2 linked regions of the Homo sapiens genome follow. The protein of the gene in region 1 interacts with the protein of each later gene in a pairwise test. Each region holds a gene or a part of one and is shown in the gene's direction. Other genes may lie near its edges.

Region 1 (3,751 bases):
AGGTATGGAATTAGTTTTTTTTTTGTTTGTTTTGTTTGTTTGTTTTGAGATGGAGTCTTGCTGTGTCGCCCAGGCTGGAGTGCAATGGCACGATCTCGGCTCACTGCAACCTCTGCCTCCCAGGTTCAAGCGATTCTCCCGCCTCAGCCTCCTGAGTAGCTGGGATTACAGGCATCCACCACCATGCCCGGCTATTTTTTTGTATTTTTAGTAGAGACAGGGTTTCATTACGTTGGCCAGGCTGGTCTTGAACTCCTGACCTCGTGATCCACCCACCTCAGCCTCCCAAAGTGCTAGGATTACAGGCGTGAGCCACTGTGCCTGGCCAGAATTAGGTTTTTATAAATGTGAAGTATTAGATTCTTATCAATCGGCAAAAGTAGAACTGAGGAACTATATCATATGCTTATAAACTGATTTCTTCTTAGTTTTTACTCCTATGATGTTTCTGTTGAGACCAGTTGACAGAGTAGGAGTGTCAGTATGGAAAAAGCATGGATCATTTTGAAACATGGATTATTCATCAATTACATGTGTTTTAGAATGGAGTCAGTGATATACTCTTGGAGATGATCTCCCCCACCCCCCATCTCCTCTCCTTTTCCTTTCCCCACATCTGTAGCCACTTCCTGTCAGCGAAACCCAGAAGAAAAACTTGACAGAAGCAAAGGGCATCCAGAGAATTATGATCCCCAGGTTGTAGTTCCAGTTCTGTCATGTCCTAAGCGGTCATCTCCTCTCTGGGTCTCAGGTTTCTTATGTATAAGATAAGTAGGAGATTGGGGCCACAACACCTGAGACTAAAGGAATTCTAAGTTTTCATTACTCTATGGATTCCACCTTTGCTAGCTTGGGACCTGGCAGGTCTCAGCAGCTGGTCATGTAGCTAATTCTCAAAGCAGATAAATGCCTGCAGGATAACTGTGAATTGACTCTAATCACAGCAGAGTCCAGCTGCTTCAATAGATGCTGGTGCCTTTGGCTGCTTCCCGGAGCCACCAGCCAACCCAGAGTTGAAGCTGGCTGGAAAAGCAGATATGTTGGAGAGGCCAGCATCATCTCTAAACACAGCATCTGGGAAATACCCATGTCCCCAGAAAGAGGTCATTGAAATCCTTCACTTGGTGGTGCAGTGCAGAGACTCAGGAAAACCAGGCTTTGAGTCCTGACCCTGCCACTTATACCAGCGGTGTGACCTTGGGCAAATTCTCTGGCCCTATGTTATCTTCCTCCTCCATACAATGAGGGTAGAAATAGAGCCACCTTGCAGAAGTATAGTAAGGATTAAGGTCCCAGGAGGCCTAACAGTACCTACTAAGCAGAGGTCCTCAGAGGTACTTAATAAATGGTAGTAGTAGTTATTATCCTGTGCCCTTTGTTCACAGGAGTCTCTTACAGGGGTGTTGGTCTCAGTGCTCCTCCCCATGGCCAGGCTGTATTGGCTCATGCCCAAGGCGTAGCCTTGCCAGGGAGCCTGGTACAGAGATGCTGCTGATTGGGATGCTGATTAAATTCCCTGATTGAGGAGCCTCAGCATTCTGGCCCAGAGCAGGAGGGCCAGCAATATTTAGCACAATCTGCTTGGATCCTCAATTAAATTGTTTTTCCAAACTGCCCTTTTCAAGGTCTTGTCCTCTTTCCTCACCTCTTTCTGGCCCCTTCTCTCTGGGTCCTTGCCAGAGAAGGGAAACAAAGCCTTGTGGGGCTCCATCTGCTTCCCCCTATCCAGAAGAAGGTGACAAGGCTGTCTTCGTTGCAGAAGATGTGGTTAAAACAAGCCTTGGCTATTCAAGGTGGCTGCAGTCTCATCCTGGAGGCTAAAGTCTCTGCGCATTCCAGGTTGATCTCTGTTTTCTTGGCAAAACTGAGTTCTCAACTCAAACCTGCCTCTCCCTTCCATCCTTTATCCCGACAGCTCGCAAGTGCTTTGCTGGGAAGGACGATTAAGTGTCACTTAGTGTATTTTTCCATTTTCCTGTGTTCATCTGGTAAAAAGAAAATAAAACAAAATAAAGGAGGCCCAGGATTGAACTGTCATTATTTTTTAAATGGAGAGAGAAGGGGTCACATGACTGCGAGTAACTGATTTAGCCAAGTGGCTGCAACTCCGAGTTTGCTGCAGAGCCGCCCCCTCCCGGCGGGGGCGCTGACGTCACGGAAAAGCCCCGCGGCGGGTCGGCTGGGCTGGTTATAAACCGCCCGGCCGCGGCGGCTGCAGGCGGCGGGCAAGGACGGCGGGCACAGCGCAGCACTCCCCGCTCGTTGGCCCGGGTATCCCAGCGCGGACCCACGCGATACGCTGACGCCCCGACGCCGATCCGGCCGAGCCAAGTAAGGGGGACGGCCCGAGACGGAGAAGGGAGAGAGTGGGAGTTTCCCAGCCCGCAGAACTTTCGAAGTTGAGAAAAGAACCCCTGGAACGTGCGCTCAGCACTGGGATTTTCTGGTAGGGGTCAGAGCTTCAAGTGCAAAGGATGTCGCTTCTCATCAGCAGGTTCCTTAGTTCAATTCGGTAGAAGGGTCACCTCCCTCTACAGATCGAGTGGTCAGAGAGGGCAGCCCTTAATGATGCTTTATGTATTTGTTGTTTGAATGTAAGTCTGCCAACTGAGGTGCTGCTTTTGAGACTAAAAAACCGGCTGGTCGTCCTGGTTAGTGGCGAGATGTTGGGGTACGGAGTGTGGGGGTGAGGGTGGGAGAGGAGTGTTTGTGCATCTTGCTGATTGCAACGTAAGTACTTATACTTTATCACCAGTAGCCGGAAAAACAGACCTCCCGGCTAGGGGAGGCAGTCTGCAAAGGGAAAGTTGTAGAGAAGTTGTTGAATATCATTTAGGGGAGTCTTCAGCCTTCTGATTTGCTTCAAGAAGGGGATCTGAGAATGGTGGCTCAGGCCTGTGATCTCAGCACTTTCGGAAGCCGAGGCAGGAGGATCACTTGACCCCAGGAGTTCGAGACCAGCCTGGGCAACATAGTGAGGCCACTGTCTCTACCAAAAAATAAAAATAAAAATAAAAAAACTAGTGGACGTGGTAGTGCAGGTCTGTAGTCCCAGCTACTTGGGAGGCTGAAGTGGAGGATCTCTTGAGCCTGGCAGTTGGAGGCTAGCTACAGTGAGCTATGATCGTGCCACTGCACTCCAGCCTGGGTGACAGAGCAAGACCCTGACTCAAAAAAGGAATCTGAGTTGAATTAAAGAACTCTTGAGAATGGATGTGGTTTTTTAAGAATGAGGCACTTTCTCTGCAAATTTCATAGGTCTGAACATGAGCAGGTCATTTCTCTGCCAGGGTGTCTAGGTTTGGAGCCGGGATGTTTTAAAAGTGGTATCTGTGGGTAAGAGGGCACAGCTGAGGCATAAACTTTAAACAGAAAATTTCCCCCCTACCCCCAATAATGGCAGGTGGATGCTCTCCAGGCAGCTGGAGAGCATCAAGGCAACTTTACTAAACATGGAAGTTCCAATAAGTGCCTGTCCAGTCCAGCCAGGGTTGCAGTGGGCAGGGGAGGGGAGGGTGATGTCATTGCCACGTGTTTCCCACTGAGGCACAAAACCTGCTGGACACTGGTGCAATTAAGAGCCAAGTTTAGACAAGAGCAGCTAACCTGACCAGCTGGTCCCCAGCAACATTAACTTGTTGCTTTTCAAGCCATCTTTGGAGTCTGCTGGTTCTTTCCAGCTGCCTTTGTGCCAGCTCTGAGTGCAGCTCTTCTTTCATCCAAGTCTGCTTTGAGGAAGGGGGAAGCCCAT
Region 2 (3,751 bases), on another chromosome or scaffold:
TAGCAATTTACACTTTGACATGACAGGTTACAGATAGTTGCCTAGTATTTAGGATGACTAATAAGCAGACCCTCAGAAAACCACCTCTTAGGGGAAGGTATCTGGAATTAAGACTGTTCCAAAGTATCCAAGTTGATTACGCCAAGATGCCCCAAATTGGTTGTCTAAAATATTTATTAGTAATAGTAGATCACCTTACTCATTGGGTAGAAGCTATTTCCTTTCAAGTGCAACTGCTAATAATGTAGTCAAAACATTAGTTGAAAATATTATACCCAGGTTTGGATTAATAGGAAACATTGATTCAGATAATGGAACTCATTTCATTGCACATGTCATTAAGAAATTAGCCCAGGTACTGGATATAACATGGGAAATCATACTCCCTGGCACCCACCTTCATCAGGAAGAGTGGGGAAAAAAATGAACCAAACTCTAAAAAGCCACTTAAGCAAATTAGTCTTAGAGACTCGGTTGCCATGGACTAGATGCCTTCCCATTGCCCTGTTGAGAATCCGAACTGCTCCTCAGAGAGATGTTGGCTTATCCCCTTATGAAATGTTGTGTAAGTTGCTCTATTTGCACTCCGCTGCTGACATTCCCATGTTCGAAACAAAAGATCAGTTTCTCAGAAATTATATACTTAAGTTTATCTTCCACTTTCTCTTGCCTCAGAACTAAAGGTCTTTTAGCACAGGCACCACCCCTAGAGTTTCCAGTACACCAACATCAGCCTAGGGACCACATCCTTGTCAAAAGTTGGAGGGAAGGAAAACTTGAACCAGCTTAGGAAGGACCCTGCCTAGTGCTTCTAACCATTGAGACCACAGTTCAAACAGCAGAAATGGGATGGACTCATCACACCCAGGTCAAAAGAGCACCACCTCCTCCAGAATCATGGGCAGCTATTCTAGGGCTTACTCTAACCAAGCTAAAGCTAAAACGGGTTTGATCCTCTTATGTTGCATCTCTTCTTTTCCCCATCTATTGCTAGTCCTCTTGTTATTAATGTAACTAGGTCGAGTTCACCCCAAACTATTACCTTTGATGCTTGCCTTGTGATGCCCTGTGGAGATGTGCCAAGCCAGAGGCAACTCTCCACTTCAGAAAAGTATCTTTGTCCTTCCTAGCTCTTCTCAGACTGGAATTCTGTTAACTGGGATAAGTTAGCTTGGGAAGAGTTTGACGGAGATTCCAGTATAAACTGAGAGTCTTGCCTTCCCAATACAAAGCTTTTATGCTGTAGTTGGTCCAACATTCTGTGGACCACTAAAGAGCAAGAATAGATTGCCCCAAGCAGTAGTTGTAATTTCCTAAAGCTATACATTCATTTTACTAAAGGAACAGCTTCCCCTAACTGTCAGCTAAATCAGTACAATCCAGTACAGGCTATTATCTCAAACCCTCTAAGTTCTTCCCCTTCTCTAAGCCAATTTCCTTCTTTAAGCCAGTTTTATAATATGGGGGCTGAGGTTTCAGGAGCAGACCCTATCAGATCCTTTGAAATATTCTTCATTGCTCCCCCACCGCCTACACCTTCCCCTAAGCCTTCTTCCAGAACCTCCCACAACAAAACTGTTGTTCTTCCTCCATCTAATGACAAGACGAAGGTAGCTATTGTAGAAGTCAAAGTCCTAAAAGAAACTTTAGCAATTGAGACGGGATATCAAAATGCCAATGCCTGGTTAGAATAGATAAAATATTTCATCCGCACTTTAAACAAAAGCAATTGTTATGCTCGTGCGCATGGCAGGCCAGAGGGCCAGATTGTCCCCTTTCCACTATGATGGTCCTCCAGTCAACCAGGCATGGGCTGTATGGTAGCTCTTTTTCCAGGATTCCACAGCCTGGGGTAACAAGTCGTGCCAAGCTCTTTCTCTGCTATATCCCGAAGTTCAAGACCCCACAGGTTAGCCCCCGAGGGCCATCCAGCTTCTGTCTCCCGACACTGAGTTCATTTTGTGTCTCTCACGACAAAGAGGAAACTTAGCATCCCTTAGAGACCTAAAAGGATGCGGTGAGCTTAAGACTTTCCAAGAGCTCACCAACCAGTCAGCCCTTATACACCCCCGAGCAGATGTATGGTGATATTGTGGTAGACCTTTGCTGGACACTCTGCCTAGTAACTGGAGTGTCACTTGCGCCCTAGTGCAGTTGGCTATCCCTTTCACCCTGGCATTTCATCAACCAGAGAAAGAAAAAAACACAATGTCATAAAGCAAGGGAAGCCCCTTATGGGTCTTTCGACTCCCACATTTATTTAGATGCAATTAGAGTCCCACGAGGAGTACCAAATAAATTTAAGACCTGAGATCAAATAGCTGCTGGATTTGAGTCAATATTTTGGTGGGTGACAATTAATAAAAACGTAGATTAGATAAATTCCACCTATTACAACCAACAGCGGTTTATTAACTATACTAGAGATGCTGTTAAAGGAATAGCTGAGCAATTAGGGCTTACTAGCCAGATGGCTTGGGAAAATAGAATGGCCTTAGACATGATTTTAGCAGAAAAAGGGGAAGTTTGCATCATGATTAAAACTCAGTGTTGTACCTTCATCCCAAACAATACCGCCCCTGATGAAAGTATAACAAAGGCATTGCAAGGTCTAACTGCTCTGTCCAATGAGTTAGCAAAAAACTCAGGAGTAAATGACCCCTTCACAGGGTGGCTAGAAAAATGGTTTGGTAAATGGAAAGGGATCACAGCCACCATCCTTACTTCTCTTGCAATTGTAGCAGTAGTGCTTATCCTTGTTGGATGCTGCATCATACCTCGCATCCGTGGGCTAGTCCAAAGACATACAGAAACAGCCCTTACTAAAACTTCTCTCAGTTCCCCTCCACCATATTCTGACAAGCTCTTTCTTTTAGAAAACCAAGCAGAACAGCTATGCCAAGACATGTTAAAGAAATTTGAAGAGGAAGACCTGTAAAATTCAAAAGGGGGATATTGTTAAGTACAGTGAGTTCTGAGTTCCTCTGGGAACCAGTATGTCAGTATGTTCAGCTTTCTTATACTTTGTTCTCCATTTTAAAGTTTAACTTCCTCATTCTTTACACCTCCTTGCCCTAGTTTCAGTAAACAACCCCCTTCTAGCCTTTATACTCACATATTTAGAGTCCTTAGTCATCCTTAGTCACCTGCTCTGTCCTTAGTCATCCTTAGTCACCTGCACTGTAACCATCCTTCCTGCCTAAACTGCTCACCCCGCCACTCTGCCTCATACCCAGATAGCCTATCAGAATTAGTTTAGACTGTGCGGTCCAACCCTAGCCAATAGGGGAATGACACAGTAGTAGGGACTAGCTGCATTAGGGATAAGAACCCCTTCTCCTCCCATGCCCGGTATGCTCTTGCGACCACTCCAGGCACGATTGGCACCCTTCTGCAGAAGTAAATTGCCTTGCTGAGAAAGCTTTTTGCCGGAGTGCTGATTCTTCTTTGCGGCACCAAGCATTTGTTTCTAACATCAACTATCTACTTTCATTTTTCAGGTTAAGAAATCTCCAAAACAGTTGGCTGCTTACATAAATAGGTAAGAGTTTCTTTAAAGTTTGTGGGGAACAACAAATATGAAAGCTGGGTAAGGATGACAATAAGGGAAAAATAAGCATTCTTTTATCATAATAATAATTAACTTATTGTCAAACAGCTTCTTTATGCCAGTATCTGCACTAATAAACACATCAATATTGTCTCTGCTCCTTACAACAGTCCTACTCTATAGCCTACTCTATAGATAACA

The links. The genes of interacting proteins can lie anywhere in the genome.
Region 2: the proteins of GEM (region 1) and KATNBL1 interact in binary tests that used the Homo sapiens proteins (3 or more experiments, as listed by UniProt).

What each region holds. Positions count from the first base shown.
Region 1 is NC_000008.11:94,260,785-94,264,535, reverse strand, and holds the start of GEM (GTP-binding protein GEM), read left to right. Parts: upstream 1-2,216; 5' UTR 2,217-2,446; intron 2,447-3,751. UniProt on the Homo sapiens protein: Could be a regulatory protein, possibly participating in receptor-mediated signal transduction at the plasma membrane. Has guanine nucleotide-binding activity but undetectable intrinsic GTPase activity.
Region 2 is NC_000015.10:34,154,434-34,158,184, reverse strand, and holds part of KATNBL1 (KATNB1-like protein 1), read left to right. Parts: intron 1-3,500; coding exon 3,501-3,541; intron 3,542-3,751.